2 separate regions of the Homo sapiens genome follow, and region 1 is linked to region 2. Evidence: fine-mapped expression QTL. A gene starts in region 2. The other region holds a variant in brackets. All regions are shown on one strand. Distances are from middle to middle.

What was found. PIP is the estimated chance that this variant, and not a neighbour inherited with it, causes the effect.
Region 1: its variant is fine-mapped to the expression of TBCEL-TECTA in whole blood (INTERVAL, PIP 0.92).

What each region holds. Positions count from the first base shown.
Region 1 is chr11:121,102,083-121,118,747 of GRCh38, reverse strand. It overlaps TBCEL-TECTA (TBCEL-TECTA readthrough), which reads right to left. Exons shown (of 30, transcript NM_001378761.1): 8 at 16,019-16,083; 9 at 12,784-12,917; 10 at 9,250-9,537; 11 at 5,539-5,676; 12 at 5,030-5,195; 13 at 30-442. TECTA (tectorin alpha) reads right to left here. Exons shown (of 24, transcript NM_005422.4): 2 at 16,019-16,083; 3 at 12,784-12,917; 4 at 9,250-9,537; 5 at 5,539-5,676; 6 at 5,030-5,195; 7 at 30-442. The coding sequence starts at 16,082. Among named protein-coding and RNA genes, the nearest start is that of TECTA, 9.2 kb to the right of the region's middle. The variant G/A (reference allele first, on the strand shown) is at 8,262.
Region 2 is chr11:121,013,808-121,030,472 of GRCh38, reverse strand. It overlaps TBCEL-TECTA (TBCEL-TECTA readthrough), which reads right to left and starts at 6,371. Exons shown (of 30, transcript NM_001378761.1): 1 at 6,182-6,371. It overlaps TBCEL (tubulin folding cofactor E like), which reads right to left and starts at 6,371. Exons shown (of 9, transcript NM_001363644.2): 1 at 6,182-6,371. RefSeq lists silencers at 6,118-6,387, 6,408-6,557.

The sequences.
Region 1 (16,665 bases), 88 kb before region 2:
TTCCCCGTGAAGGATAGAAAGGGGCTCACCTTGACTCTTCCATAGCTTCCTTTGGGGATGAGAATCTTGTAGCCATTCACCTCCACTGAGAGCTCCTTCACCCAGGAGACGGCTGAACCTCTGCGGTGTTCATTCTTGGCCTCCACACTGAAGAAAGGGAGGCTGGAAGTCTGCAAACACTGTCGGGCCAGCAAGTAGGCACAGGAGCCTTGGAAGTGGAAGAGGAAGCCGTCAAAAGTGTGGTAGTGTGGCTCCCCAAACACCACGCATGTGCTGGTCTCCACAGCGCTGCAGTAGAAGAATTTGCCTTTGGGTTCGCACACCTCGTAGGGGCTACAGGAAGCCTCCTGGCAGTAGATCTCATTGTTGAAATCCAGACAGCGGCACTTGACGGTGCAGTTCAAGTCATCCCAAAACACCTCCCCTCGCCGAAGGAATTGTCCTGGGGAATAATGACATTAGAGCCAACATTTACTGAGCATTTCCCCTCTGTGCCAGGCATTGGGCTAAATGCTTTACTTCCATTATACCATTTAATCCACGTAAGAACCCTGTTAGGGAGGTATGGTCACCCTCATTTGACAAATGAGGAAACTGAGCCTTAAGAGAAGTGAAGTAATTCATCCAGGATCACTCAGCAGCTCCGTGGTAAAGCCAGGATTCCGAGAGGAGTCTGTCTGAATCCCGTCTAAGCTCTTGGTATTATTATCTCCATGGCTGGTGAGCAAACTCACATTCAAGGAAAACCACGTTATCATGAATCCATGGAAAAGGGTATGACACTTGGAGTCATTTCCTGCCTTTCCTTCCGAAGGAAGACCCAGTTTACCCAGGTTACTCGGCAACACTCACTGTTTGCTTGCTAATTTGTTCATTCATTCAACAGACATTTGTTGGGGGCCCAGTATGTGCAGGAAAAGGTCAATAGCACTAATCAGGAGTCAGATGCATGAGTATAAATCCCAAACTCCCTGGGAAGGTTCTGGAAAGCACTGACCACTTTCTTGCACATTTAAAGGCTCATGAATCCTGCAGATGCTGCTTAGGCAGGATTTACACCTACACAAATTGTCTTCTTTCCCACTCTAGGGCCCTGTCCAAGTCCAGGACTTCTCTCTGTCTATGCACCGGACAGACCTTCTTGACAAATTCTAGGTCAGGAAGAGAATGAGGAAAGGGGAGGGGAATGGTTTAAAGGGATGTGATAATTTTAAAAACACTATTATTTCTTTGGTAGACATGCAGTCTTTAAAATCATTTCTGTAAATAAATGACCTCCCCACCAAAAAACTTTGAAATTTTCTGGTTGCTAACATCAACCTTTAATTGAAATAGAAACACGTCTGGGCTGGGGACTGTGATCTAGTCCTTGCTGGGGGATTGGGGTCAAGAGAACTGGGCAGCAGTCACAAATCTGCAATCCATTTCCAAGACTACTCATTCAACTTCCACCTGTCTGTTTTCCTAACCTGTAAAATGTGGATACTGCTGTTTCTCATCCCTGTCTCACAGAGAACAGCGATGTTATAAAAAAGTTGACACAGGTTGATAGAAGTAGAAGCACTTGTAAAATGAGAATGTCTGAAAAGGCAAGTATCAAAGACACAGCATTAAGAAATGTAAATAACATCTCAAGTTTTTATAAAACTGACTATCGAGTGAATAGCACAAGGCTGCAAGGTTAACCCAAGTTGAGGGTGCGGGTGTATCAGTAACAGTCTTGACTCTATCTGCCCAACAGGAACAATGATGTTTCAACAGGCAATTCCATTTTATACCTGTTGAGAATAGGGTTGAAAAATGAGAGAATAGATTTAGTCACATTCCCAATAAGTCATGTGCATCAGCCCTGAAAACAGGTCCTAATCCTCAGCACTCCTTGGCACTAGTTCAGGGCTGTATGTATTGTGACAGCCTCCACTCAGCATCATTTCCAGGCCCTGCTTTTTCAGGCTTTCAATAAGTGAGAGGAAAATGCCTTTGAATAGAGGAGGTTTGGACCAAAAGGTAGACTCTTTGAGATAATTTTGTTTGTGGAATGATGATATAATAAACCAGCTCTACAGAACACTTCCCCTGCTATACCCCAGGCCAAATCCCAGTCTCATTAGATTGATATATGTCCGGAGGCACATAAAAATGCATAGCAGTCTATATAAGGATATTGAAATCATCCCGTATATGAAACCCAAACCTATAACTCAGGAGGAAAAGAATGAAGTCAAAGTGGAGACTGTGTACACAGCTGGCATCTGACCAACTCCGCAGCTCTGCAAGCCAGTGTTTTCCGTTATCACAGCATTTCATTCCCAGGACCCAGGTGAGAGGCTGTCACTGGGCACTCATGTTGTATGGCCATAGCCAGTCATCTCTGTGATGCCTGGACAAAGGGAAGAGGTATTTGGGTAAGAGTCTGCAACTTCTGAGGCCCCTGGTCCAGGCTATACAGGGGAGGGAGATAATGTAGTATTGAGTTGGTATCTCTCACAGACCTTAAGTGATGCCGTATTTACACTCTGTAGGGGAGGAGGGTACAATCTCAAATCCTAATGAGCTCTGGAACTAGATTATTTCCTATCCAGTTAATACCAGCTTAGCTGCAAAACATTTATTTGTTATTTTGAACATGGGGGACTTTACAGAGTCCACAGAGGCAAGGGTCCAGGCAGGCCATCTTCACACATGACCTACCTTAGAGCGAAGGCACTAATCACAGCACAGGGAAAGGGGCAGAGGGCACAGGTGTGTCAGACCATGTGAATGTGGCTTTTCTGTATATTAAACACATTGAGCCCAGGTGCAGTGGCTCACACCTTTAATCCCAGTGCTTTGGAAGGCTGAGATGGGAGGATGGCTTGAGACCAGGAGTTTGAGACCAGCCTGGGCAACATACTGAGACCCTATCTCTACAAAAAATAAAAATTAGCTGACATGGTTGTGGTTCTTGTAGTCCCAGCTACTCAGGAGACTGAGGTGAGAGGATTACTTGAGCCCAGGAGTTTGGAGTTCAAAGTTACAGTGAGCTATGACCACGACACTGTTCTCTAGCCAGTCTGGGTGACAGAGAGAGACCCTGTCTCCTAAACAAAAAACAACAACAACAACAACAAATTGAATCTGAGCCAAGAAAGAACCCCGAGGCCTCCCAGGGCTGCCAAGACAAGCAGTCCAAGCTTCTATCTGAGGGGATAAAGGCACCTCCTCATTCCTATCCAAAACTTCCTTAGAGGTCTGGAAACACTTTTCCCATGGTCTTCCTCTGTGTTTCCACAGTACCCTACACAAGTGTCTACCATAATATGTCTTATGCTGTGTCATCATTGTTCCCATGGCTCTGTCTCCTCTACCATAGTAATGTCATGGTAGCTAGAGCAGCTTTATCTCCAGCACCTCACAGAGTGGCTGGCATTTCAATGGGGCTCTTAAAATGCTTTTCAGAAAGATGCAATGGCTTGCTAAATGGCTGGATGACTTGATGGATGGGTTGGTGGATGGGTGAGTAGGTGGATGGATGGGTGGGTGAATGGGTGGATGGATAAATGGATGGATGGGTGAATGGGTGGGTGGGTAGGTGGATGGATGGGTGGGTGAATGGGTGGATGGATAAATGGATGGATGGGTAGGTGGATGAGTGGGTGAATGGGTGGATGGATAAATGGATGGGTGGGTGAATGGGTGGGTGGGTAGGTGGATGGATAGGTTGGTGAATGGGTGGACGGATGAATGGATGGATGGGTAGGTGGATGAGTGGGTGAATGGGTGGATGGATAAATGGATGGGTGGGTGAATGGGTGGGTGGGTAGGTGGATGGATAGGTTGGTGAATGGGTGGACGGATGAATGGATGGATGGGTAGGTGGATGAGTGGGTGAATGGGTAGATGGATAAATAGATGGGTGGGTGAATGGGTGGGTGGGTAGGTGGATGGATGGGTGGGTGGATGGGTGGGTGGGTAGGTGGATGGGTGAGTGAATGGGTGGGTGGGTAGGTGGATGGATGGGTGGGTGAATGGGTGGATGGATAAATGGATGGGTGGGTGAATGGGTGGGTGGCTAGGTGGATGGATGGGTGGGTGGATGGGTGGGTGGGTAGGTGGATGGATGGGTGGGTGGATGGGTGGGTGGGTAGGTGGATGGATGGGTGGGTGGATGGGTGGGTGGGTGGGTGGGTAGCTGGATAGATGGGTGGGTGGATGGACTAATGAACAGAGGCATTATTTCCTTCTTCTAATTTCTGTAGCTTCTACTCCTGGAAGTAGAAATATTATCAGAAATTCTGTTTTCTAAATATTTTTGGACACAAAAAAGCAGGAATTCATAAACCAGGATGTTTCTCTGAAAGTCCATGGTGAGTTTGCACATCTAAAGGGGTTCGATAGTTCAGAAAAGGCTCCAAACTTTGGGTGCCCAATGTGAAGGACATCCACCCAGGTTCAACTACAGCTTACTCACAGATACCCAAAGTCAGCTTTGATTCTCCTCAAATTCCTGCACGTTTTGCTGATGCTGGGAAGATTTTAGGAGAACTTTTGTTTCTTTTTTTTCTAATCATACTAGGAAGTACTGATTTACCCTCATAGGAACTTGGCAATACTCCAACTGCACCCATTCCTGTAGATCTACAAAGTGCAGAAGACAGAGCGAGAATAAGGATGAGAAGAAAAACATAAAGGGCGGGGGGAGGAAATGGCAACAACAACAACAAAAATAATGTTAAACAGGAGGGCTGCCTTCTGTCCCTCTGGCTCAGAAATCACTCAAGATCTTGGTCCATTTCGGAGTTGTTCAGAACGGATAACTGTGTGCACACTCCAGAAAAGGACTTCCAAAGCCACAAGGTAGTGAATGCAGTGTTTTAGCTTCTGATGTGATGAATGCACATGCTAAAATTACCTTGATCTCCATTACCCAGCGGAGAGATGTCAAAAGAGTAAGGCATCAGGAATGAGTCCGCCCCCGTGGCTTAAAAGCTTGCCTGTCAATCTACACTAAACAAACCCTGCCTTGCCACAGACAGAGGAAAAGCTTTACCCCTTGAGGTGCAGCCATTGGCTGGGTCAATTTCCTTTCCATCAACTTTAAATGCCCAGCGGCCTGGAACATTGACGTTTGTGGTCTCCTGGATATTCACGATCTCGGGGGTTCTTGACCCCGGGAGGCTGAAGAAATTGGTGAGGTTTCCACCATTAAATCCTGCCTGCAGCACAAAAGGAAGACAAGATTTTTGAGTACAAAAATTCCCCATGGGTTAACTGGCCCAACTACCTTATTTTTAAAATCCAGCACCTCTAAAATCAAGAGCCGTCTTTTCCTGGAGTCACTGGGGCCAGCATTCTAGGTGAGAAAGGACTGCCTAGTTCATTTCATAGCCGAGTCAGGGTGCCAAACATGGGCAGGACTAGCCTCGTAGTCCACCTGCGAGATCAGACCTGCGTCTCTAGTTAAAAGCTGGTGGCAGGATTCCCTCCAGGATGCTGAGCCACAGAAGCAGAGAGTGCAGCGACGGAAACACGCGGGGGATGAAGTGGAGAGCCACCTACCTGTGCCATCACTCCACCAAGACCTGTCAGGGGGTCGCCGCCACTCGCCGTCCCCGTGGTCCAGTTGATTTCGTAATAATTGAAGAGGGTGAATGTATAGGAGCCATCGGACACTAGGACGGCCTGGAAGGTGTTCACCTACAGGATGGGAATGCGCAGTCTCATGACTTGCACTCCCCAGGAGGTCCTGGCCCCAAGGAGGTCCTCCCTTCACCCTGCGCCCTCCCCACCCACAGGCAGCTCAGAGCTGCTCTGCAGCCAGGCCCTCCAGCTCTGACTCCTCTCTGAATTTGTTCTCGCCTCCGTTGGGAAAAGCAAGACATGTGGGACTGTGCTTCTAAAAGAGAAATTGCCTGAGATAAACCCAGAGTCTGACTCAGCGCCCACTTATATCTCTGACTTCTACCAGACAGAAAATTCAGAGGCCCGGCTAAGCGTGTGATAATATGAAAGCACCTATAGATGGCAGCATGAGAATAAACTACAGGAAAGACTCGGCCGGGGACCAGGATGCAACCACCGGTTCCCCTTGCAGAGCGGGTTGGAAGAGGGAGCAGATACCAGTCCGTGTGATTAAAGTGGCCATGCGGATTGCGCTCTCTCTCTTCCCGGAAAACAACATTAATCTTGATGAGATGTCTCCCCTTTTAAAAATGGAAGTGGGAAAGTGATTTTTAAAAAGCACTTTCTGGGGAGAAGTTACTCCTCTAATTGAGCATTTGTGCATCACTTTATTTCTGAAAATCGTTAACATTCATCTGTACCCCAGACCAACGCTAAGACGGGTGATCGTATTGGCCCACGCCTATCTTATAGTTAAGAAAACTAGGGACTGCGGGAAATGAGTTACTAGAAATTTCACAGTGACCCAGCAACAGAAAACGAGATTTGCGCCAGAGTTCCCAGTCCATCTCTCAGAGCACTGCCATTCCATGCTGTCTTCATTTTAAACTTTTTAGGATAGAGATGTTGCTTAAATTCATATGAAACTTGTAAATGGTTTTCAGAAATAAGCTGTAGCAAACCCTGTCCTTTATATTTTCCTCTTGCTAATCCTCACCCCTTGTCACATGTTTTCAAAAAATTTAATAGAAATAGAGTTAAAAGGAGAGGCTGCATTGACCTTTTTCTATTCAAACCTAGCACTTTTCCCAGCTGCCTGACACTCTGTCTGATGCAGAGGAAGACACAAATCCTTATCCTGTGTAATCAAACTGGGGTAGAGGATCTTGGAAGCCCCAAATCTCCCCATTCTAGATGATCCCAGAAAGGGAGGCAAGCTATGAGTAAGAACAGCCCTTTTTGTAAAGAACTTTTCTTCCCATGCTCTGTGCTGGCCACGGCTGATGGCGTTTGTGATAGACTTGCTCAGGTAAACGCCTTCAGTCTCTGGCCCCATTCAACAGAAGAGGACAGTGGGACACAGAGATGAGTGAGCAGTAGGCTCAAGATTGCTGTAAGGTCACCAGCAGGCTCTTGTTCAAGGGACAGGGGCAAAGTCAAAGTCACACAAGGACTAAAGCTAGAGCCTCCTTCAGACCAAGATTCTCCTTCAGAAGGGAATTCCTTCTCCCACAGTGAAGCTGGAAATATCTTTGGTCCAAGCAGATCTCAAGAGCAATCCATTTCCAACCCCTGAAGTCACCTCTAAACCAACCAGCCATACCAGTGACACCCCAGAGGCTGACTGCCACCCGCACGCACCTCAGCTCACTCTTACACATTCTCACACTACAGAATTCTTCAACGTTCATTCCAAGACTCTTCTGGATAAAAAAATCTTTTTTGCTTCTGAGGACTTCAGCAATACCCGCAGGAGGCAGCTGAAGAAAGAAGAGTCTGGGATTTGGAGTTGGAAGACTTTGGTTTGAACCCTGCTCTGTCTCCTAGGAGATTTGAATCCTATTCTTTTTCTTGCCACTTGAACGAGATACTTGGCCTCTCCCGGCCTGTTCCCTTCCCTTGAAATTGGAGACAGTACTTGTCCGGGAACATTTTGGGGAGGGTTAAATGATATGCAAAAATAGCCTTCAGCACCAGACACATAGTAAACCCTCAGTAAATATTAGTTTTCCTTCCTTGAAGTAAACATGTCCCTTTTCCTTCCCTTCTGTTGGCGTCGCATGAGAATTTTTGCCTTTGAAAGACCTCTCAAGCCCAGTGTTTAGCTGGCCTGATCATATGTGTTTCTATACAGAAGGGGAAACATGGAATAACGGGATGAAAGAGGTGGGGCCAATTTCAAAGATGGGGATGGATGGACACTTTTGCAGCTCCAGAGAACTACATCATCTTTTTTTACTCCAAGGAGCTCAAAGCACTTAGATGTTACTTCATTCATCCTCACAGAAAGAGTTCTCACCTAGTTCAGAAATATACTCCAAAGTATAAGCCAGAAAGTATCTAAATTATCTTGCCATTTTTATTGCCAATGGAAGTTTTTTTGAAAAACTGGTGGTCAGCATTTGATAGGCATTTCTTCCCCCAACCCCATGACACTAAAATTTATCAATTGCTGGCATCCCACATTCTAACGCTGTAAGATATGAGGCTTAAAGGACATAAAACATCACCCGAGGAGTCGTTAGCGATCTATAACGTGACAGAGGGAAATGTGTGCTTCTTTAGAGGTTATTTCTAGCCAATGCATCGCTGTTTAAACTTGTGTCTTTCTGTTCTACAGAACCTCTTAGCGATAAAGTGCTTCTTGATGCTCTGGCTAG[G/A]AGGTGCTAAAACATAATGTGTTCGTGGTGTCGCAGCTGTGAACTGCAAGCCCAGCACTTTTTCACCTCTCTCTAACTCAGTCGTTTTTGTTCCACCCCTCCACAATTGACTCGTTGCCAAGGAAATTGGAAAACAGATGGAATTGGAAATAATCCTAAGTAAGTGGAGGGCAGATTTTTTGAGTGTCTTTGCTTACTAGAAATTATACAGTTGAAGATGTGTCTACTACTTCAAAACTCTCCACTGGCAAAGTCACCCAAACAAGCTGCAGGCTTTTGTGAAAACTGCATTCTGTCCCTTTATGTAGAAAGTTGATTATCTCTGCAATAATGGCAGTGATAATCTTTCTTATCTGACTTTTATTTGACTGCTTATTTGGGATTTCAGAGCAGATGTTGAAACTTTATTCATGAAATGCTTTCACTGCCCACTCTAATTAACATCAAATATGAATAATTTCAGCCCTGGTAACAATAAAAAAGATGTCACAACATAATAAAATGAGCCAGATCATTTGGGCCCAAACTTGGAACGCTATTTTTCTCTTCCAACCAAATTTTACTGGGGAGAGAGGGAGGAAATCAGGGATGGAGAGAGGCACTTGTACCTCGGGCAAGAGAAAAGGACCTTTGGGTCCCTAGATGGGTCCCTAAGCATGTGGCCTGGAATGGGTCTCAGTGCCTCAAGCACTCTCCTGCAAAACAGCAATGTCACTTACAGCAGGAAAGTTTTTGAGGGTTTTTTTTTAGGCATTAGTGATGATTTGTGATAGGGGTGACATATCTTCTGAAATATTACAGCTGACTGGGCTGGTTAACTGTGATAGTTCCCTCTGTTTCCTGCAAAGTGGGTAGCAAAACTCATTAGTTTAACTCAAGGGAACTGACACTCCTTAGCTCTAATAATTAGACTCCTTCGTGGTAGCGAAGATGGACAAGAATTAGATGTCAGGTTATGAAGTGGAAAGCAGAAAATTTGAATTATTACAGGTGTGGTGCTGCTGCCTCCATAAAACGTGACTTCCTCCCATGTCACAATGAAAACCCAAGTGGCAGAGAAGGTTGCCATGTCTTTGAAGTACTTCCTGATGTCCTTGGTGGCTCTTTTCAAGATGGCAGGCTCCATGGTCTCTCTGTAATAGATCTCGCCTCGAATTCCATTGTGCACATCTGCCCAAAATGGGGCGACGAAGGCTCTCCCATCTGTCAGGGGAAAGGATTCTGGCGTGAACTGGCTCACTAGCACATTGAAGGAAACAACTCCGTTGTTATTGACCTACGAAAATAAGAGAGGTTTTGCACAGTGGATCTGAAACCATAACAACTTCAGAGTCACAAACCAAGACAGACATTCGCCTAACTGTATGAATGAAAACAACTTTTAAACTACTGAATTAGAACCCCCAAACACCGGGTTCCATTGCTCAGACTAAGAGGTTCGTTTACTTCCAGACAAACTCATTGGTTTTCTTTCACATTAGATTTGTAACCAGCTTCATTTCTGATTAATAATCAGTCTCATTTTCATGTTCCCTATCCTGTCTCTATTACACTTATCAAATGCTCCTGAGTTGTGCTTCTGTGTGTGTGTATGTGTGTACTACAGGTGAGATGTGCATGTGTGTGTACTGAAGGGTGTGTGTGTACTGGGGTGAGGTGCGTGAGTGTGTGTTTGTGTACTGAGGTGAGGAGTATGGGTGTGTGTGTTCTGGTGATGGTGTGTGTGTGTGTACTGGGGTGAGGTGTGTAAGTGTGTGTGTACTGGAGTGGGGGTATGTGTGTGTGTATTGGGGTGAGGTGTGTGTGTATACTGGAGCATGTGTGTGTACTGGAGTGGGCTTTGTGTGTGTATTCTGGGGTGGGGAGTGTGTGTGTATACGGGGGATGTGGTGTGTGTGTATACTGGGATGTGTGTGTGTGTGTGTACTGGGGGTGGTGTGTATGTGTGTGTGTATATTGGAGTGTGTGTGTACTGGGGTGGGCAGTGTGTGCATACTGGAGTGGGTGTGTATATGTGTATGTACTAGGGGTGGGGTGTGTGTGCTTACTGAGGTGGGATGTATATGTTTGTGTACTGGGCATGGTGTGTATGTGTGTGTATACTGGGGTTGGTGTGTACATGTGTGTGTACTGAGGGTGGTGTGTGTGTATGTATATTGAGGTGTGATGTGTGTGTACTGGGAGTGGTGTGTGTGTGTATGTGTGTACTGGGGGTGGCATGCGTGTATGTGCTGGGCCAGACAGGGAGTAACATGGGTACTAAAGACAGATTCAGGGTCACTAATACAAAATAAGCAGGAAAAATAAATAAGCATGGAAGTAAAGTTAAATTTGAAAATTGAGGTGCCCTATGTTAGGGCTTGCTTCCTATTTTATGACAAAAGAGGAGTGTCAGAGAAAGATAAATCAAATACTCCTTCATCCAACTCCAGTCTCTGATGAAAATATTCTGCTTTGGGTGAGACATTTAAAAGACCTCCACTGATGTCACAACCACTCCTGCACTCAGAGCAAGGACAAGGTTAAGACCTACAGATGCCCAGTTCCATTCCAGCTCATGTGGTGTGATAGTGTCCTGGTACAATCGCTGCATAAAAATGGAGGCATGACTACTTTACACTGTTTATGTAAATGACTATCTTATGGTGATTTCTTCATGATTTGTAAATGGCTTAGTAAACCAATTAAATAGGAAACCTTACTGGAAATCACAAGCCAAGATATACCCTCAGTTTACAAGGGACCTGTAAACAATTCAGCCTCTGCGTGAATCTGCAGCTCTGTACGTTGGTAGATAAACTGATTTAACCCTGTGGCTGACACGGCTTCAGCAGCAGAGGTACCTGTAATGGGAACTGCAATTCTTGGATATAGAAAACCTGGAGATAATTTTCCTATACATTCCAATCATATGTTAAGTTTCTGTTAACCAGTAACATTATGGACATTAACAGTGGCCCAGATCCCAGAGGCAAGTTATCAAGGCCTGGACCAAGGGTAGGTCTACGTGTTTGGAAGCAAGGCTTTGGGTTTGGAAGAGACATTAAGAGCCTATTGTCTTCCAGTAATTGGGAACATCCTAGAGGCTTGAAGAAAACTGCACTACTCAAAGTGTTGGAAACGCAAGGAACAATTTACCCTCAAATAAATCTGCCTCAAGCTAAGGAACCTCCTGTTGCAAGGGCAAGAAAAAATTCTTCAGACTCCATATCACACAGTGCAATAGAGAAGAAAAACTAGCTTAACTGGGCTTCCAGCACGGAAGTCCTCACTGCCTTATTGCCAAAATCAGGTCAACACAACCCAAAACTTAAAACCAGCTATTACAAAGACAGACTAGGGAGGCCCTGCCGTGAATAGAGTATAAAAGGCGTTTCAGGATGTCAGAATGAAGTGTTTGCTAGGGAACAACAGGTGTAATTAAAACACACAGACTGGCAGAGGAAGCTGGTGATGACTCACGTGTGTCTTGATTATATCCTATGGTTGAGATCAGTGGTTCTCAAACTTTTGTGGGCATCAGAACCACTTGGAGGACTCATTAAAACACAGATTACTGGCTCCTCCTCCCAGAGTTTCTGACTCAGTAGGTGTGGGGTGGGACCTGAGAAATGACATTGCTAATGAGTGCCTGTGTGACGCTGCTTCTGCAGGTTCAGGGACCACCGTTAGGTAATGGAATAGTGAACTCTTTTCTAGCGGGAATCATCCCGGAGCCATAAATCAAAAGTTGGGGAAGAGAGAGGTCCCAGACGTAGAGATGGCCAGAGGTGGACATGCTTAGGGTTGCATTCTTCCTCCAGGGGTGTGGTATAATCCCTCACCCAGTTCTTTAAGGCCAACAATAAAGCCAGGCTCGGCTGCTCTGAATCTTCCTCTTCATGTGCCACAGTTTCGCTAGCAGCAAACCCAATGATCCAAAAAACCAAAAACAAAAACCTGAGAACACAGGTGCCTAGGAGAGCTCTGATCACAAATGGGACCATTTCTTAGTGTGGGTTGGGCGATGAGACCCTCTGGCCTATCTACAGACCCATATTGAGGGTGGCCAATTCTGCAAACAACTTTGATATAATAGTTGATTACCCCCCTACTGTGTTCCGACTCTGCTTCAAATTGGTAGGAAGCCCAAGAACAGCAGATGCCTAAACTTTTCACACCCCCAGAAGGGAAAGAAAAATGATATTGCTCCTACTGTGGTTCATTGTATCTTTTTATCTCGTTGAGTAGCAGAAATAACATTCATGGCATTGGGGCTTCTGCTTCACTTCTATGTTTAATCACTGACAAAAGCAATTTATTGCCCTGTATACTCCTCCACTATGAACATTAGCCATTAAATATACCTTTGACTTTCTTATTCATAAAACCTATCAGCTCATGAAATCTCAGAACTTGTCGTTTTGGCTGCCAATAAATCCTCCCTTCCCAGAGCTCTGGAAGAGGATACTTAAAATGCTTTTCTTAATGACAAACAAAAGGGAGGGCCAGAGAACAACAGATGGGCTGCTTCTCCACTTACATAGACAGTGCGGTAAGGAACGCCAAAGAAGAAAACTGGGATGGCCAACTTAATCTCAGATGAGCTTCCATCATCTACTTTAGGGGTTTTGGTGTCATTCTGCCAAAATGGATACATGAGCTCCCTGGGCTGAGCTGTCAAGAGAGATGATGGTTAGATAGATGGCAGCTCCCTCTGCCGTTTGGCAATCTACATCTCTCCTACCTACTGAAGCCAGCTTCTTTCAGTAGGGCTTGCAAGCTGAATGCAAGTCATACTGCCCTGTCATTCATCCTAAACCTAGGCCATACACAGCGCAGTATCTTCTGCTCTGGGAAACGGGAAAATGGGAGTGACATTGTTTCTCCATAGGAGAAAGCACTTTGTGCATGTTCTTGCACTTTCATGCATCTTGGTGATATCTATGGCTACAGCTGGCTGGAAATTTGTGAAATTTCCCTGGAAACCTTGAGCTTTCTGGATACTGAGAGGCAGCCTCTAGGTCTGGCATGGCCACAGTTTTGAAGCTCCTGTTCTAGCTCAAGAATTCCACTATCGTGTGTTTTCCTGAAAGGAGTTCCCTCCCTCTTGCTGCACAATTGGAGAAAATCCCAGATCCCAGAAGGAAATAAACAACAGTGGGAACTGAGACAAAAGTGGGAGGAGAGGATTTGTAGCAATTGGCCCATGAATGACCTTGATTGAGGGCGGCCCTGCAAGAGGCTCTTTGCCCAACTCCTTTTTTACAAAAGACAGACATGAGATCCTCCGGGGTCAGAGGGTTGGGTCCTTGAGAACTCTTTGGAGAGAATGAATTGCAGGGCTCTGATTGGTCCTCCTGGTCACTGGAGAGCCATCACACAAACACACACTGCATCCCGCTGTGACAGGGTCACCTCCTCTCCTGGCTTGCTGCTCCCAGGTTTCCCGTCCATACTGTTGCAAGATGTGGCTCAGTTTTGTGGGAGAAATGAGACAAGTTCCCTAGGGTCTGCATCACTGAGGATCAAGTCCAATAGCATCTGTGAAATAATCTACATTTTGGGTGTTACTTTTCTTTGCCTCTGTCCTTTCTTCTCCTGAATGAATATAAGACAATAGGACACTATCGTTTTCTCCCTTTTTTCCTTTCTTTAAATTTCTCATTCTCGGGGGCAGGGGCAAGACCATGCTGGGCATCGGCCACACTTCTTGAGGTACCTGCTTGCTGCTATGAGATGCCGACACCCCCATTCTCATGTCGGGCCTTCTACTTGGGAAAGTCCCTGCTCTGTGCTGATGGAAGCAATAGGCTGGGGAGCAACCGGCCAAGGACTGTCTTTGCTCCTTTGGGAGGCTTTTGGTGAACAGACAACAGCTCATGTAAAAGAGAGGAGTGCAAAGCGGCCAGAAAGCAGGCCTGTTGCACCAGGCCAAGAGCCAGCTCTCCAGTTCTGAAGCAGGGAGCAAGAGGAGTTATGCCTCAACGGAGGGCTAATTTCTTTCCAGGGGCTGACATCCAAGGAGAGCAGCAAAACTAATCTGGTCATTCGTGTATATGCATCGTCCAAACCCCAGAAGTTGCTGAGAAGCAGCCCGAATTTGAGGCTGTAGGAGGCGCTGTGTCGGGTCATAGGCACTCTGGGCCCATGAGCTGTATTTAATGTCACAACCAGCAGGTGAAAAGGGGTCTTCTAACATTTCTATTTACATAATAGTAACAAATTAAAAATTCCTGGAAGTACTAATTAAAAAAAATCTTTATAATCTCTACTACAGTATTATACACAGGTACTTATTTCTGAAGTTAACAGTAACAAATTATGTCCTGGCATGGATTTATCCTTCATGGGGAACTTTTTAGGAGTCATGCCCAAGTATGAATGAGGGCTCAAATTCACACTGAATTATCATCATCTGTATGGAAAGATTAATTGGTATTTTGGGCTGCACTGATTGGCCAATCTGCCTAGGGAATGGAAAACCCATAATACCGCATGGAGGAGACGGAAAACCATGGCCAGGGAGAATGACCCTAACTTCCTCTTCTGCTGCAAAGGTGAGGCAGTTTGCAAGATTCTTCTCTTCGTGGGTGATCCTAATTAGTTCACAATTTTGAATAGGAAAGAACGGACTGTTAAATATTTTTAATTTTAAGAAGGATACAAACATTAAGAATATCTAATATGGTAAATAATACTTGTCAAATGAAAAAGAGGGTGCTAAACACAAGGGCGTAGGTTTAAACTACGGTAATTAACACTGCAGAAGCCATTATTATTTTTATATATATATATAAAACTGTTAGCAGCATGGCCTATCAATAACATCAGAGTTGCTAAAAGAAAGAATATCCCTATCCATGCTTGCCCTAAGCTGAGAATTTCACAATAAACATAGCTATGTTTCCAGGATTTTTTTTTTCCCACCAAATAAAATGTACTTTCTTGGAGCTGGGGTAGGAGGTTGAAGTCAAGGGCCCTCTTTCATTCCCGTGGGGTTTCACACTATGGTTTAACTGCTTAAATTCACCAATTCTGGAAAAATATTAGCACTGCACAGGGGCTTGACGTGTTCATCTCAGACTTGTACTCATGTGCCACTTGAACTAGACAAACTCGCAAGGTAAAGAAAGGTGCCTTAGAATTTTAGCCATAAAAAGTTAAAATCTACGTAGACCGCCCCGTCTTTGTCTAAAATCCAAAACAACAGTAGAAAAAAGACATATGTGGCCTTTCACTTACCCAGGGCAGTGCTACACAGAGAAAAAGAAGGAATCACTGAGGGGAAAAATTGTCTTATTTAAGTTTTAGATTTGAGGGCCACGTAAAAGGTCACTGATACACAAACCACTGACATCAATGCTATTGTAATTTCCTAGTTTTTGGCCGAAATAAGTAGATTCTTTAAAGTCTCCACCACAAATTAAATGCCTTAATGGAAATCAGTGATCAGACATGAAGTGCACATACCCCTATCTTATCTACTTTTAATGGAAATAATTTTGCGTAATTTTAAAGATCTACTCCACTAGCACAGGGCAAGCTGGTACATACAAATAGTATTTGAAGTTAAATAAGAAAAAAGTGGGAATATAAGTAAACCTCATTTAAAGTTAATGAATTTTACCCTTGATAATAGAATTTAATTACATTTTTCTCTTGTATCTGTAGACACACATGCACCTGCCCTTACAATTGTGGTTCCAATAAAAGTGTCTCTTTATCAATTCAAGAGCATGCTAACTGAGAGCTTTATGGAATTCTGTAGTACTCACCTTGGTGCTGTACAAGTGCGAAGATGAAAGAGACCCAAATTCTAAGGAATGATGAATAATTCATCCTGGAATTTTAAAAAGAAAATGAAAAAAAAATCCCCAGCTTGCCAGAGTAAACAGAACACCAGGTGTGTTTAGTGGCTAATCCCAAGACCATCAAAACCGTCATAGAACAAATTCACATAACAACATCAACAGTGCTGAGTCGGGCTGAAATCCCCTGAATGCTGGCAGGTCCTCCGAAGTTCAACACTTCATGAACAAATTAGATGCCCAGAAGAAGCCAGTCTGGAAGTGTAATGAGATCATTCAAACTGTCAAGTAATTATTTAGGATCAGTGAGAGTGGTATGCGTAAAGGAAAGGTATCCCCTCTGCATCAAATAAAGCGCTGAAAACTAGGACCCAACGCTAAAGATGCATGCAGGTCCCGGGTTGTGTCTCTGCAGCAGAAACCACACCCCAGTGAGACCTGGATTTCCTAATTTTCACTACAGCTTTCCATCAGAATCAAACAAAAGTTGGTTAAAACACAATGTGTTCTACAGCTAGGAGAATTTAGAGTCTGCCATCACCTTCTCCATAGAATGGAGCCGATCCATCATTTTGAAGTATTGACCAGATTCAGGGCCAGTCTACTCTGTTCAC
Region 2 (16,665 bases):
TAGCCTCCGCCCTGGTCCCTCTTGACTCTTATACAAATCATTCTCCACAAAGCAGCCAAGTGATCTTTTCAAAATTTAAGTCAAATCATGTCCTTTACACTCTCCAATGGCTCCCCTTCACATGCAGAATAAAATCCAATCTCTTCATCATGGTCGCCAAGGATTCATTTAATCTGATCACTGCTTACATCTCTAACCTCATTTCCTCCCACTCCTTTCCTGGCCCACTACTCAGCCTCCGTGGTTTTCTATTTCTCAGACTTGCCAAGCTGATTTCCCCCTACAGCCTTTGCATTTGCAGGATTGCCCTTTTCCTGTCTCTTGGCAGAGCTGCTTCATCTCAGTGTTTAAGTCTCAAATTTAAACACAAATGTCACCCTCTCAAAGAGGCTGCTTCTGACCACCCCATCAAAAATAGCACTACTGCCACCATCACTCATAGTCACTTCACCCTCTGTCATTCTTTATAGCACTTATCATAATCCGTTAGTTCAGTGTTTGTTCTCCAGCAGAAGATAGGTCCCACACAAGCAGGGATTTGTCAGTCCAGTTCAGTTTTGTGCAGAGCAGTGCCTGGCATATGATTAAAAAATATTCATTGGATAAATGGAAAAGTGAATTTCATTATCAATAGACATGAAGCAACACCTTCTGACAGTGAAATGAAAATGAAGCTCACCAATGGCAGAATGAGAAGAAAAATTTTGAAAATCACCGGAAACGCATTATTCCAAGAACAGTTTTAAATAACTTTTCACAATAGTACTTGTTATGGATCACATTCCTAAGAATGATTAGTGATTAATCAAAGTTTCACACAGTTTTAAGATCCTGAATTTGGGAAATGGGCTACCTGTTTAAATTTCATTTTTAGAAGAGCACTGTGATTAAAAGCATGGTCTTCAGTTAGTTCTGAGTTCACTTATGACTACTGTGTAATTTGAACAAGTTACTTACCTATCTCTATGCCTGCTTCCTCACTTGTAAAATGAAGCTATTAATAGCCATTTCACAGTTATTGTGAAGACTACATGAAATAAAGTTTTTGAAGCATCTAGTTAAGTACCTGGCATGAAGTAAGTGGTCAATAAACTAGTTATTATTGTGAAAGCTGAGACGTCCAGACAAATGGAGGAGCTGATATGAGTCAAATAAACAAACATCCTCCCCTTTTGGCAGAGGTGGGAATACATGCCAGGATTAAATCGTTTTTCCCTCCAAAAAGACAAATGTACACAAAGGTAATATATAAGAAGCATGGACAAAGGACTTTGAGAACACTGAGGGAGTGACTGTCTTCACTAAGGAGGTCAGTCACATGTAAAACTGAGTTTTACAAGACAGCAGCAGAAATGTACTAGATGAAAAGAAGGGGAAAGCATCTGCACAAACACAAATGAGTGAGAAATGCAAAATAAAGTGAGAAATGTAGTGTAGTTGGTGTAGAGTATAGAGTATATGTGGGAAGACGGCTAGAAAATAAAGAATTGGTAGGGCCAGATGGTAAGGGGCTAAGGTCCACCATTCAAAAGTTTGCACTTTATTCTTCCATCAGTGGGGAGATGAAGGGGAAAAATCCTAACATGCTAATTTGATACCAATTCTTCTAAAGAAGGCGGAAACACCTTTATGACTTTAAACACCACATAGGGCCACAATCTGTTAATGTAAAATAGAAAATATTTTAAGCCTTAGTTCTTAAAACCATATGAGCAATTTGTTTGTTAACAATGACTGATCTGGAACCTCTCTTCATGATGTTTTATTATTACTGCGGTGACCACTGTTGTGCTAGGCATCATCATGACAGCAGATAAAATCTATTGTAAGTTTATTATGTGTTGTGTACTGTGTTGTTTTATATGTATTATCTCACTTAGTTATCACAACACTTTTATAAGGGGTACTATTATCCCATTTTGCAGATCAGAAAACTGAAGCAGAGAGGTTACGGGCCCAGAGCTAGTGACAGAGCCAGGACTCAAATCTAGGCTGACTTCAAGGCCCTAAAATTAAACCAGTTTGCTGAATTATGATATTGCTCAGTTCATTAACATCACTTGCTGAAAAGTTATTTGAGTACCTACTGTAATTTAAAGCATCAGGCTAGGTCAGTGACTTTTAACTTTTACTGTATGGAAGAATCATCCAGACAGCTTGATAAAATGCAGATTCCTAGATTCCACCAGAGATTCTGATTCAGTAAGTCTAGGTCAGAATTCAGGGATCTGCTTTATTTTATTTTATTTTATTTATTTATTTATTTTTTTAAACAGTGCCTCACTCTTCTTGCCCAGGCTGGAGTGCAATGGTGTAATCATAGCTCACTGAAGCCTCAACCTCTGAGGCTCGTGATCCTCTGGCCTCAGCCTCTCAAGTAGCTGGGACTACAGGCATATACCACTATGCCTGGCTAATTTTTTAATTTTTCATAGAGATGGGTCTCCCTACGTTGCCCAGGTTGGCTTTGACTCCTGGATTCAAGCGATCCTCCTACCTCGGCCTCCCAAAGTGCTGGGATTACAGGTGTGAGCCACAATGCCTTGCCGGATCTGCATTTTTAACCATACGTTCAGTCAATTCTGATCTACTTGGTCTATGAACTACGCCCTGGTAGACCCTGTGCTAGATGTCCTAGTTTTTCATGGATATTTGAGCCTCCTGTTCACCACGCATTTATAATCTAAAAGGGATAAAAATAAGGTGCACAAATAATACAAAGCAATATAGCAAAGGCAGTACAGACAACATAAGCAACAAAGACTTCAAAGAAGAGGGGTCATCTGAAATGAAATGAGAGTGAGTAGGATTTCATGAAGAAAGGGAACATTTTATATGCAGACTTTCAGGGATAATTTTACACACAAAGGAAGGTACATGAGCAGAGGCCTTGGCAGGTAGAGGAACTGCATTTAGGAGTGTAATGATGATGCCAGAAAAAAAGTAGAGGAAGTCTGTAGAAGGCCCTAAATATCAAGCTAAACACCATGGGCTTTATTCAGTGCCTGTACTGGAAAGCAGCTAATGGTTTTTGAGGAGGGAAATGAAATAATCATAGCAATATCCTTTGGAAGAGTTCTCTCATGAAGCTATGCAAGCAAAAGACAATGGGAACAGTCCAGTTATTACCATTCTAATTCCAAAGAAGTAAGTCAGAATGGGTAGCATGAAAAAGGGAGGAATAGTAAATCTCAATAACTAATCACGTGTAGGAGAAAGGCAACAATCGCAAATAAGGATTCCTTCACCCTTTAAGCCCAAATTGTATCACTATCAGTTTCACATTACTTCTTATACAGCTAACCAGGCCCAAAATATATAAAGAGTTCACTTATTTAAAACACAGCCCAGGACTAAGTAAACTGGTCTCTAAGTAGCCAACATACATGTCACACAGTTCACACACTAAGAAAAGGAAAAAAAAGTATTATATAACAAATATAAATATCTGATTTTCAAAACCATAGTAGTTTGGAGGCAAAAATTAGAAGGAGAAAAGAGCCTGCTACAGGTGGACAGGCTTAAGAGTCTAAGGATCAGAGAAGAAACAAAAACTATTAAAAAGCACACACAATCACTCAGGGTCACTTCTCCGTAACTGTTTATTGACAAGTACATATGATTCCCAGAAAAATGAAATAAATAAGAATCTTCCTTAATGTTCCAGGCACCTACAAAACAAAATCTTCTTTAAACATTCATTAAAGCTAAATATTTTAAAACAAATATTTCCCTGATTAAGAGGTCATTTTTAAAGGATGGCTGATATATGCCAGCATAACGCCTCTATCAGTACCTAATAAATAATTAAAGGCAAGAAAGATTTATAACACACAAAGTTCAAAGATGATAGAATGTTTTCGTAAAGCATTTGATCAAGAATGTGGCCCCACTGATGAAGTTTTAACTTGGGTACTTCTGTCCTGATGACCGTGTCTTTGAATTCTATGTTACAAATAATACGAACTCATCCTCAAAAAAAGAAACGCTATTAAACTGGTCTTAAATACATACCCTGTGTACCTACTGAAATTAGACAACATCCTTTGACACTCAATGTCCTGCAGCAATAGGCTATGTAACAACTTTTCAAAGGACTTTAACATTACAACATTTAACATTACATGAAGGACTCTCACTTTGTTCACCAACAGTCATTAATGTTTATTATGAATTAATACTATTTTTCTAAGGACCCCACCTAAAATTTTTGTAAGGGGAATTAAGATGTTAACTGATTGAAAGTTATACTTAGGTTTATGATTAAGTTTATATACCAAAGCCGTAGACTGTAAGGCTTTTAAATATGTCTATGGCTTTGGTATATATTTTATCGTGTATTTTTCATATATTTTTCATCATGTAGCAAAAAGTATATCATAATAATTACTGCAGTAAGAAGAATTTGGGATGTTTTTAAATAGCAGAAAAGAAAATCAGTGTATCTTCACAACATTGGAACAGTAAAATAAAATTTCTTTAACTATGTTGTGATAAAGCAACTAAGTGGAACTAGGCCTCTCATATTTCTCAGACACAGCAAAGGATAAAGGAAACTAAAACACACACGCATACAAAAAATTTCATCAATCAAATGATCAGGCAACATCAAGATATTAAAGATCAAGATTATGGTCCTTCAGAAAACACAGGTCAAATATGCTACGTGGTATAAACATCTAAACCGAAGCAATCAATTGCACCTAGCTGCCCTCCTCCCTCTCCCCCGGCCAAAATAAAATAAAAAAAAAAAAAATCCATCTCCTTAGAATCATCCCTGCTCTTTAGAAGCTTACAGAATGAGGACACTGATTGACACCAAATAAATGTGCTTCAGAAACAGTGTTTTTCAAACTGCAAGTTGTGACCCACAAATCATCAATTTAGTAAATGTCAGCCAGCATTTTTTTTAATGCAAGAGGGTGGAATATAATAGAAATTAGCAGAACATATCACATATAATAAGGGTAAATACTGCTTTGTGAAAGTTTCCCTTCATACCTACGTATGTACTAGATCTGAATGTAAGACATACTTATTACTGTGGGGCATAATTTTTTTTTTTTTAAGTTTGAAAGCTACCACCCTAGAGATCTGGGTCTAATGCATCTCAGGACCCAAAGAGTGAATGTTTTCCTTAGTCCTCAGCACCTATTCATACTCTTTGCTCAAGATAGACTACTGGAAACGTAAGAGCTCCACAGCAGCATGACATGAACAAGGGACAAGCCCCAGCTCAGCCTGTATTTGGACTTGAAAGCATTACCAACTTCTCTCAACAGCCCTAGGCGTTGCCTACAAGCTCTTTGTAGCCTAGCAACCTTCACAGTAGAGCTCCTCCTTTCTCCACTGACTGTATACAGTTCAACACTTCCAACCAACTTTCCTCAACTACAACTTCTGGAATCACTGTGTCCCAAGAAAAGACTATTAAATCTCCTCTCTTCACCAATTCCCAGAATGTCTTCCTACTAGCGGACCTAGAACTCAACAGAGAAGCTCCACACAGATCCTTACTTCCCCCAAGATCCCACGACAAGGCACCCGCCTGTCAGTCCAACACCCTCGTTCTCAGTCTCCCAACCTTGGGGCAAATCTTTTCTCCCAAAAGCCCTTATTCAATTACCACATCCACATCCTTTTATCAGCCCCTGGTAAGAGCAGGCCTAATGTCCCAAGGGCCTAGACATGCCCGTCCTTCCCCCAGCAAACCTCCCTGGGGACATGTCCTCTTTTCTGGGATTCAGTAGTTCAGAGACAAGTTTCCTATTTCCCCAGCAGTCCCAGACACGTCTCCCTCTTCTAACAGCTGGGAGGCATCTACCCATCCCCCACGCTGGGGCAAGGTGAGACGCCTAGATTCTCCCAGGAACCCGGGCAGGCTCCCCAACACGCCCTCCTCCAACCCGGGACCAGTCCCCCAGCCCAGCCCAGCCCAGCCCAGCCCAAGACCCTCCCAGCTCCGCCATAGCCCAGGCCAGGCAGGCCCCATCCTCCCTCTAGCCCCAGGGCAGGTCTCCCATCCCCACAGCTGCTCGAGACAGGCCCCATGTGGCTTTCACCCTTCCCCGAGTGTCCTATCCCAGCACCCTGCAGGAGCGACCCTCCGCGCCTCGGCTCCAGAGGGGAACGCCTCGGGCCTCGAGAGCCCGGCAGAGCCAGCGGGCCCGGCTCCACTCACCCCTCAGCCCGGGAGGCGGGGGAGCTACTGCGGCGGCTCCTCTGGCTGCGCCTCTCCTCCCCCCTCCCGGCCACCGCTGTCGCCGCCGCTCAGCCTCGGGCCTGGTCCCGGCCAGCCCCGGCCCGGCGCCGCTTCACCTAGTCCCCCACTCTGGCCGCCGGAGCCCAGTGTCCTGCATTGACCCGGAAGCAGCTTTCCCGGCCCAACAACAACACGTGACCCCGCCGCACGTGTCACGTCCGCTGCGTGAATGGGAGGGGGCGCCGGAGGAGCGGGTCCTCCCCAACCGCGCTGGGGTTGCCATGGCGACGGGGATGGCTGCACTGGCTTAGGCTTTACCACAAACACCTCATCTGCTCTTTCTCGTGCCCACCCATTGAGTGGACAATCCCCAGGGGCAGAACAGGAGTACACATTGTCATATCAGAGGACAATAGGGGCTGCAGAAAAGAGCATTGGGCTGAACCTTTCCAGAAACACTTGGAATCTTGGCCTGGCTCTGTTACTGATTTGCTGTGTGACCTTGACCAAGTCTCTTCCTATCTCTGGCTTCAGTGTCCTCAACCATAAAATGAGGGAACTATACTAGATGAGCCCTCAGGGTATGGTGGCAGTCTGACCTTTCTTCTGTGCCCCCTTCACAAGTGGCATCCCGAGCTTCCAACACCAATGTAGTAACAGCAGCTTTCATTTATTGAGCACTTTCTAGGTACAGGCACTGCGCATGTGCTATTTTTAATTTTTACAGCCCTCCAAAGAGATGGTATTTATAGAATTGAAAACAAGTTCAGAGTGCTTAAGTGATCTGCCCAAGACCACCCAGTTAGTAAATGTGACCAGGGTGAGATTTGAATCCAGGTCAGGCTGGCACCAGGGTCCATGCACTTCACTTTATGCCACGCTATTGCTCCAACTCCATGCATAGTATTACTATATCTGACTGTTGAGCTGTGATTGCTTATGTACTCCTTCGTCCATTTCTTTTGCAGAAACATACATGGAATAGGCGTGGTGCTGGCTCAACCCCAAGTGAATTCAGCCTTGTATGGGAATGTCCCCTGAAGTGCTAGGAGATGAAGATGTCTTTGTGCATAAAGTGTATGTGCTTCTGTGTGGTGTGTGCCAGAAAAGACGTGGGGGATGTAATGTGCATGTGCATGTCTGCATTGGTTTCTAGAAGGGGGAAACAAAATTATTTAGGACAGACCCAATAGCACCTTACCATCATCAGTTCCTGGAGACTTATTTTTGTCATTCTGTTTTGTTTTCTCATATCCCATAGGTAGGGTTAGACAGGGTAGAGAGGAAAAAAAAAAGCCAGAAGGTCATGGGTAAAGAAACTGCTCTGAGTATAAAGGGGATGATTAGCCAAGAATTGTATCTTAGGTTGCTCAGGAAGGGGCTTTACTCCCCCTTCCACAGAGAACAGAGTGCCTTTCTTGGCAATTTAAGAATTACTGGCTTTCAGAGCACTGAGATCATTAGCATTGTGTCCGGAATTGGTGGGTTCTTGGTCTCACTGACTTCAAGAATGAAGCCGCGGACCCTCGCGGTGAATGCTACAGCTCTTAAGGTGGCGCGTCTGGAGTTTCTTCCTTCTGATGTTCGGATGCGTCCGGAGTTTCTTCCTTCTGGTGGGTTAGTGGTCTCGCTGGCTCCGGAGTGAAGCTGCAGACCTTCGCGGTGAGTGTTACAGCTCATAAAAGCAGTGTGGACCCAAAGAGTGAGCAGTACTAAGATTTATTGAAAAGAGCAAAAGAACAAAGCTTCCACAGTGTGGAAAGGGACCCGAGCGGGTTGCCACTGCTGGCTCGGGCAGCCTGCTTTTATTCTCTTATCTGGCCCCACCCGCATCCTGCTGATTGGTAGAGCCGAGTGGTCTGTTTTGACAGGGCGCTGATTGGTGCATTTACAATCCCTGAGCTAGACAAAAGGTTCTCCACCTCCCCACCAGATTAGCTAGATACAGAGTGTCCACACAAAGGTTCTCCAAGTCCCCACCAGAGTAGCTAGATACAGAGTGTCCATTGGTGCATTCACAAATCCTGAGCTAGACACAGGGTGCTGATTGGTGTGTTTGCAAACCTTGAGCTAGATACAGAGTGCCGATTGGTGTATTTACAATCCCTGAGCTAGACATAAAAGTTGTACACGTCCCTACCAGACTCAAGAGCCCAACTGGCTTCACCCAGTGGATCCCGCACCGGGGCTGCAGGTGGAGCTGCCTGCCAGTCCCGCGCCGTGCGCCCGCACTCCTCAGCCCTTGGGTGGTGGAAGTGACTGGGCGCCGTGGAGCAGGGGGCGGCGCTCATCGGGGAGGCTCGGGTCGCACGGGAGCCCATGGAGGGGGTGGGAGGCTCAGGCACGGCGGGCTGCAGGTCCCGAGCCCTGCCCCGCGGGAAGGCAGCTAAGGCCCGGTGAGAACTCGAGCGCAGCGCCGGTGGGCTGGCACTGCCGGGGGACCCAGTACACCCTCTGCAGCCGCTGGCCCGGGTGCTAAGCCCCTCATTGCCAGGGGCCGGCAGGGTCGGCCGGCTGCTCCGAGTGCGCGGCCCGCCAAGCCCACGCCCACCCGGAACTCCAGCTGGCCCGCAAGCGCCGCGTGCAGCCCCAGTTCCAGCTCGCGCCTCTCCCTCCACACCTCCCTGCAAGCTGAGGGAGCCGGCTCCGGCCTTGGCCAGCCCAGAAAGGGGCTCCCACAGTGCAGCGGTGGGCTGAAGGGCTCCTCAAGTGCCGCCAAAGTGGGAGCCCAGGCAGAGGAGGCGCCAAGAGCGAGCGAGGGCTGTGAGGACTGCCAGCACGCTGTCACCACTGCCAGCACGCTGTCACCTCTCAGCATGGCCACAGTCAAAAGTAGCCTCAGTGGTGAGGACCATGAGAAGAGCGGAGTAAAATGTACAAGGTGGATGCTGCATGGATACTCTGTTGACAGACTTACTTCTGAGCTCAGGTACCTTTGGGGACACCCAGAAACGCTTAAGAGGCTAGTTGCCCTGTGAGCAACTAGGAAAAAAGCAAGAAATATGGGTCATTACTGTTAACAAATACTATGTGCAACGTATATAAATACATATATGAGTATTGTATGTGGCTGGGTGTGGTCGATTATACACTTCTTTGTATCTCTGAGATATCCTCCAGTCATTTTTCTGCTTCTTTTCCCATCTTTCCCCTTATAGATGAAACTTCTAAAGACAAGATCAATGTCTCTACCCACCTCCCATCTTTCTCCCCAAGACAGCCAGAATTATCTTTCTAAAACTTACATCTGTAATCTCAGCACTTTGGGAGGCTAAGGCAGATGGATCAAGAGGTCAGGAGTTTGAGACCAGCCTGGACAATATGGTGAAAGCCCGTCTCTACTAAAAATGCAAAAATTAGCTGGGTGTGGTGGTGCAAGCCTGTAATCCCAGCTACTCGGGAGGCTGAGGCAGGAGAATCGCTTGAACCCAGGAGGCGGAGGTTGCAGTGAGCCGAGGTTGTGCCACTGCACTCCAGCCTGGGTGACAGAGCGAGACTCTGTATCAAAAAAACAAACAAACAAACAAACAAAAACACATATGTGATTGTGTTATTCTCTGGAACTTAAAACCCTTTCAGGATTCTCTGTGGGTCTCAAGATAACGTCTATTATTATTAATGTACTTCTCAAAATTTTTCCAGATCTGGACCCTGCTGACTTTTCCAGCCTCATTTATCACTGCTATTTGCTCTTCTGTATCTGCTCTGTTCAATCTGGTCGCCACTAGCCACATGTGGCTATTTAAATTGAAATTAATTAAAATTAAGTTAAATTCGAGTTTCATTTCCTCAGTCACTTGACACTAGTTACATTTCAAGTGCTCAATCACCATATGTGGCTAGTGGCTATCATATTGGACCGGGCAGATACAGAATATTTTCATCATCACAGAAAGTTCTATTGAACTGCACTGCTCTATACTCACAAACCTTCCTGTATGATATATTCTATAGGAATTCCCTCCACAAAGCCATTTACTTCAAATGTTCTTCTTTCACTTCCTTGAGACAGAAAATTATACATAATAGCTTATTTCCTTGTTGTTTCTTTGGCGAGCATGTAAGCCTCAATGAAGGCAGGAGTAGGTCTATCATGTTCACTATTGATTCCGCATTATTTCTAAAGGGCTATCATATAGGAAAAGGAGAGAATGGACGTTGAACTAAACTGAGAGAAAATAACAGGCAGATTTGTGGCCATTTTATTAGATATTATTATTATTAATTATCATTTTAGACAGGGGCTCTCTCTGTCGCCCAGGCTGGAGTGCACTGGCACAATCATAGCTCACTGCAGTCTCAAACTCCTGGGCTAAAGTGATCCCTGCTTCTCAAGTCTCCCAAGTAGCTGTGACTACAGGTTTGTGCCACCATGCCTCCCTAACTTTTTTTTTCTTTCTAGAGATGGGATGTCACCATGTTGCCCAGGCTGGTCTTGAGCTCCTGGCCTCAAGCGATCCTTCCACCTTGACCTTCCAAAGTGCTGGGATTACAGGCATGAGTCACCAAGCCCAGCCAAAAAAATATTCATAATTCGATCACTTTGACTTACAAAGGGCAATTTCATACAGTGCAACCTAATAATAAGGAAGAACTTCGGGAGAATTGGAGCTGCTTTAGTCAGTTCTAGTTAATTCTCTGCCATTGGAATAGGTTGAGCAAAGGCAGAATCTGTTAAAACAATATGTGAACAATTCCTGGATCAGAAGATTCGAAGTCTTCTAAGATTCTCAGTCTATGTTTCTCCTACTGGATCTTTAATTCAGAGTCGAATATGCCATAACAAAAATCATAGCTACTTTCTAAGGTTTTACTATGCCAGACGCTGCTTGAGACATTTTATGTAGATTACTGTTTTTCCCTCAGTCTTCACAATGATCTTATGAAGTATGCTTAATGCTATCAGATTTACCAACTAAGACTGAGGTTGTCATACACCCAGCAACATACAACTAGTAAAAGGCAGAGTCCATATTCACATTAGGTCAGTCTGAAATCAGCATTTTAGTTCACAATGACCCTGTATTATGAGATATAGTTCTGTCATGAAGTTTCAGCCAGATATTTATTTGCATGTCATTTTAATTTAACAATTGCTTATTTTGTAAGAGTTTTGTTCCTTGTACTTAGCTAGGTGGTTTGGGGAAAACAAAGACAAATAAGGCATGGTCTCTACAATGTAATTGGAATGGTAACAGTGATACATGGCAACTTACGGGATGTTATTTTTTAAAAGGAGATAAGGGAATTATCTTCACAGCTGAAGGCTCTTCCCAAGTAGACAAGAGGATAAGGACATAATTATATGAGAATTTAATGTGAACAACAGCAGTGCACAGATGGGAACACAGGGGAAGGGAAAAGCAGCTGCTTCACTTGAAAGAATAATGGCTGGTTTGGTGACTGTGTCTTTAATACCATTCCTGGTTTTTCCACTAACCAGCTCTGCCTCTTAGACTGTTTCTGCCTGGAGCATTATCTACCAAATAACAGAGATTGGATAAACTATCATGGCAAACCACCTGAAATTATATATATTGTGTATATTACACATGTATGCATTTTTAAAAGGAAGTGTCCCAGATTTCATCAGATGCATGCACACACACACACACACACACACAAATTCTAAGTCAAAAAAATGTAGAATGGATGACCCCTTTAAATTTTGCAATTCTCAGATTCTATATTTTATTTTTGTCAACATTATTGACATATTTGTCAGGAGCTGTACTGTCATGCCAAGCCTAGTGACCAAGCAAAGGACAAAGATTTTTAAAATTTTAAACTGGGGAGTCATACCTAGAATTATTTAGAAAGAATCAGTATTTCCTTACTGGGCAGAATATGGTCTTTAAAAAACAACTCTTAATTTGTTTTTTTGCAATTTGCAATAGACCAGCCACAAAAAGCTTAATTTTCAAGAAGACCTTACATTAATTAAAATCACTTGCAACAAATTGCTAGAAGTCTCACTAACCTCTCATAATTTTTTTATTGTGAAGAATAACATACAGAAAAGTGCACATAGTGTACATAAATGCACAGCTCAATGAGTTCTCACAGGTAAGCATGTAACAACCTCCCATTTAAGTCATAGAACATTGCCAATTTCCCAAAGACTTCCCCCAGTACCTACACTCACAATTCTCCCCAAGTTAATTAACTGCTATTCTGACTTCTAATAGTGTAGCTTATTTTTCCCCATTTTTAAATAAATGAAATCAAACGAGATGATTTCTTTCACTTAATATTATGAGAGTCATCTATTTTGGTCCATGTAGCTATAGTTTATTCACTTTTGTTGCTACATGTATCTTATATTATAGTAACACTCTATTTATTTATCCATTCCACCACTGGACATTTGTGTTGTCTCCAGGTTTTGGTTATTATGCATAACACTGCTATGAACATTCTTGTGCTTGTCATTTAGGGCACATATAAACATTTCTGTTGGGAATATACCCAAGAGTAAAATTGGTAAATCCTAGCTTTAGATCAGCGTTGTCCAAAAGAAATATAGTACAAGTCAAGTCAGATATGTAGTTTAACTTTTTCTAGTGGCCACATTAAAAATATTTTTTAAAGTTAAATTAATATTAATCATGTATTTTATTAACCCAGTATATCCAAAATGTTATTTAGATATTTTGTTATTGTTTTCATATTAAATTCTCAAAATTCCATGTATAATCTACACTTAGAGCAATTTAGTCTAGCCACATTTCAAATGTTCCAGAACCAAAGGTGATTACTAACTACCATATTACCATATCTGCTATTATTTGGTTTCATTTACTGTTATTTTTCTAATTTTCTTATTTTCTAAAAAGTCTTTAAAGCGGTACATCTCTAAGTACAGCATTAGTTGTGAGTCACAGTTTTGATATGTACATTTTCATTATCATTCCACTTTAAACATTTTCTGATTTTTTTTAATTCATTGATGTGATGGATAACATTAATTGAGTTTTTAGTATTGAATCAGGCTTGCAAACCTGAAATATATCCCATTTGGTGTAGTATATAATTCTTTCTGTACATTGTTGGATTTGATTTTCTAATATTTTGTTGATGACTTTTGCATATATGTTCATGAGAGATATTGCTCTATGGTTTTCTTTTCTTGTAATGTCCTTGTGTTGTTTTGGTATTAGGGTAATGCTGGCCTCATAAAATGAGGTAGAAAGTACTCACCTGTTTCTATTGTCTTAAAAGATTATAGATAATTGGTGTAATTTCTTCCTTAAACATTTGGTGGAATTCATCAATGGACCCATGCTGGCTTAGGTGCTTTATGTTTTAGAAGGATATTAATTATTGATTTAATTTGTTTAAGAGATATAGGCCTATGCAGATTGTCTTCTTCTTGTATGAGCTTTGGTTGATTGTGTCTTTCAAGAAATCGTTCCATTTTTTTCTAGCTTATCAAATTTATGGGCACAGAGTTGTTCATAATATTCATTTACTATCCTTTTCATGTCTTTGGGATCTGTAGTGATGTTTCTCTTTCATTTCTGATATTAGTAATTTGTGTCTTCTCTCTTTTTGTCTTAGCCTGGCTAGAGGCTTATTGATTTTATTAATCTTTTCAAAGAACCATCTTTTGAGTTTATTGATTTATCTCTACCGATTTGTTTCAGATTTCATTGATTTCTGCTCTAATTTTTATTTATTTCTTTAGTTTGGATTTAACTTGCCCTTATTTTTCTAGTTCCCTAATATGAAAGCTTAGATTATTGATTTTATATGTTTCTTACTTTCTAATATATGCATTCAAGTTTCTAAATTTTTCTCTAGGCACTACTTTTGCTACACCCTACAAATTTGGACGTTGTATTTTCATTTTCATTTAGTTCAAAATATTTTCACTTGTGATTTCTTCTTTGGCTCATGAATTAGTTAGAAATATAGTTAATTCCTATAATTTTATGTTACTTCAACATCCATTTAAATATAAATTTAGCTTTCTCATACCAGATATCAGAAGCAGGACATAGTCACCTTTGACACACTTTCCAGTTGTCCACTTCCTTACAGTTCCTTAATGCAGTGTATCCAGTTATCTGCCTTATACAACCACCTCCCTATGGAATGGTTAGATACAACCTACTTCACTCACCCCTCTGATCCCCTTAACCCCCAAGGACTGCGCAGATATGCCACAGTAGCCCCTCTCAGTCACAGTGTGACCCCATGGAACTCTTGCCAACTTGCTTTAAACCCATCAGTTAGAACGCCTTGTGGGAAAACCTGCTTGGGTAATGACCCCAATAAAGACCATGGCCCACAGGTCCCTCTCTCTCTCTCTCTAGCTCCCCATCCACCAGTTGAGCATATATGTCCCAGATGGCTTTCTCCTTCCTGTTGGTTGAGGATACATTCTTTGTGAATGTTTAAAATAATTTGTGTTTTACAGTTGTTAAGTTCAGTGTTCTATATAAGCAATTAGATCACTTCTGTTAATTATGTGGTTCAATTTATATCCTTATTGATATTTTGTTATAAATTGATTTTGTAACAATTGTTACAAGCAGATTGATTACTTGTATCAGTTACTGAGAGAGGTGTGTTAAAATGTCTTACTAAGTCTATGGATGAATCTTTTTTTCCTTATAGTTCTGATAGCTTTTGATTTATGTTTTGGTGGTATAATACTAAAAACTGTATTAAATTAAAATTGTATTCTCTGTCTGGTAAATTGAACTTCCTCTCATTATGTATATCCCACTTATCTCCAGTAATATTTTAACAATAGCCTTAAAGACTATTTTGCCTAATATTAATCAGCTTTCTTGTGGTAAATCTTCTATCCTTTTATTTCTATAACCTTATATTTTAGATGTATCTGTCATAAATAGCATAGTGTTATTGGTTTGTTGCTGTTGTTGTTTTTTCTTTTCTTTTTTTTTTTTTTTTTTGAGATGGAGTCTCTGTCGCCAGGCTGGAGGGCAGTGGCGTGATCTCGGCTCACTGCAACCTTCGCCTCCTGAGTTCAAGTGATTCTTCTGCTTTAGCCTCCCAAGTAGCTGGGATCACAGGTGCATGCTGCCAAGCCCAGCTAATTTTTGTATTTTTAGTAGAGACAGGGTTTCACCATTTCCACCAGGATGGTCTTGATCTCTTGACCTTGTGATCTGCCCGCCTTGGCCTCCCAAAGTGCTGGGATTACAGGCATGAGCCACTGCGCCTAGCCCGTGTTATTGGATTTTAATCCAGCCTATTATTTGTCTGTTAATTTGAGAATTTTATCTATTTATATTTAATGTAAATATTGAGGCCTGGCGCAGTGGCTTACGCCTGTAATCCCAGCACTTTGGGAGGCCGAGGCGGGCGGATCATGAGGTCAGGAGATCCAGACCATCCTGGCTAACACGGAGAAACCCCGTCTCTACTAAAAATACAAAAAATTAGCCAGGCGTAGTGGCGGCCACCTGTAGTCCCAGCTACTTGGGAGGCTGAGGCAGGAGAGTGGCCTGAACCCGGGAGGCGGAGCTTGCAGTGAGCTGAGATCACGCCACGGCACTCTAGCCTGGGCAACAGAGCAACACTCCATCTAAAAAAAAAAAAAAAACTGATATATTTAGGTTTAAATCCAGCAGTTTACTAGTTAACTCATATTTTTTTTTACCTGTTTCATGTTCATAATTCTCTCCTTTTAAATATTTGAGTGCATTTTTCATTCTATTTTCTCTTCTATTAGCTTGGAAGTTATATACACCCTTACTATTCTCTTTGTGGTCAATATAGAGATTAAAATATGCATCCTGAACATAATAAAAATTAATATTTCTTAACACTATTGCCATTTTCTCAGGCAATGCAAGGATTTTTGTTTGTTTGGTTGGTTGGTTGGTTTTCTTTTTTTGAAACAAGGTCTCACTTCTCTTGCCCAGGCTGGAGTGCAGTGGCTTCATCAGGGATCACCGCAGCCTTGACCTCCCCAGGTTCAGGTGATCCTCCCGCCTCAATCCCCCAAGTAGCTGGGACTACAGGTGCATGCCACCATGCCTGGCTAATTTTTGTATTTCTTGTAGAGACTGGGTCTTGCCATGTACAGATTTTTAACACCATTTGCCTCTGCCTGAATTATATGTGATTACTGTCATATATTTTAACATAAATATTTAAAATGCACAATATAGTGTTAATATTTCTTTAATAGTATTCATTTAGATATATGTTATGGTTGTCAACTTTAATTTTTAAGTGATAAAATGTATAAAACATAAAATCTACCATTTAAACATTTTTAAGTGTGCAGTTCAGTGGCATTAAGTACATTCACAATGTTGTGCAGCTATCCCTCCTCTGAATTTCCAGAACTTTTTCATCACTCCAAACAAAAACTCTGTACCCATTAAATAACAACTCCTCATCCCCCTGCCCTCCCACCCCGATAACCTCTAATATACTTTCTGACCCTATGAATTCACCTGTTCTAGGTATCTCATGTAAGT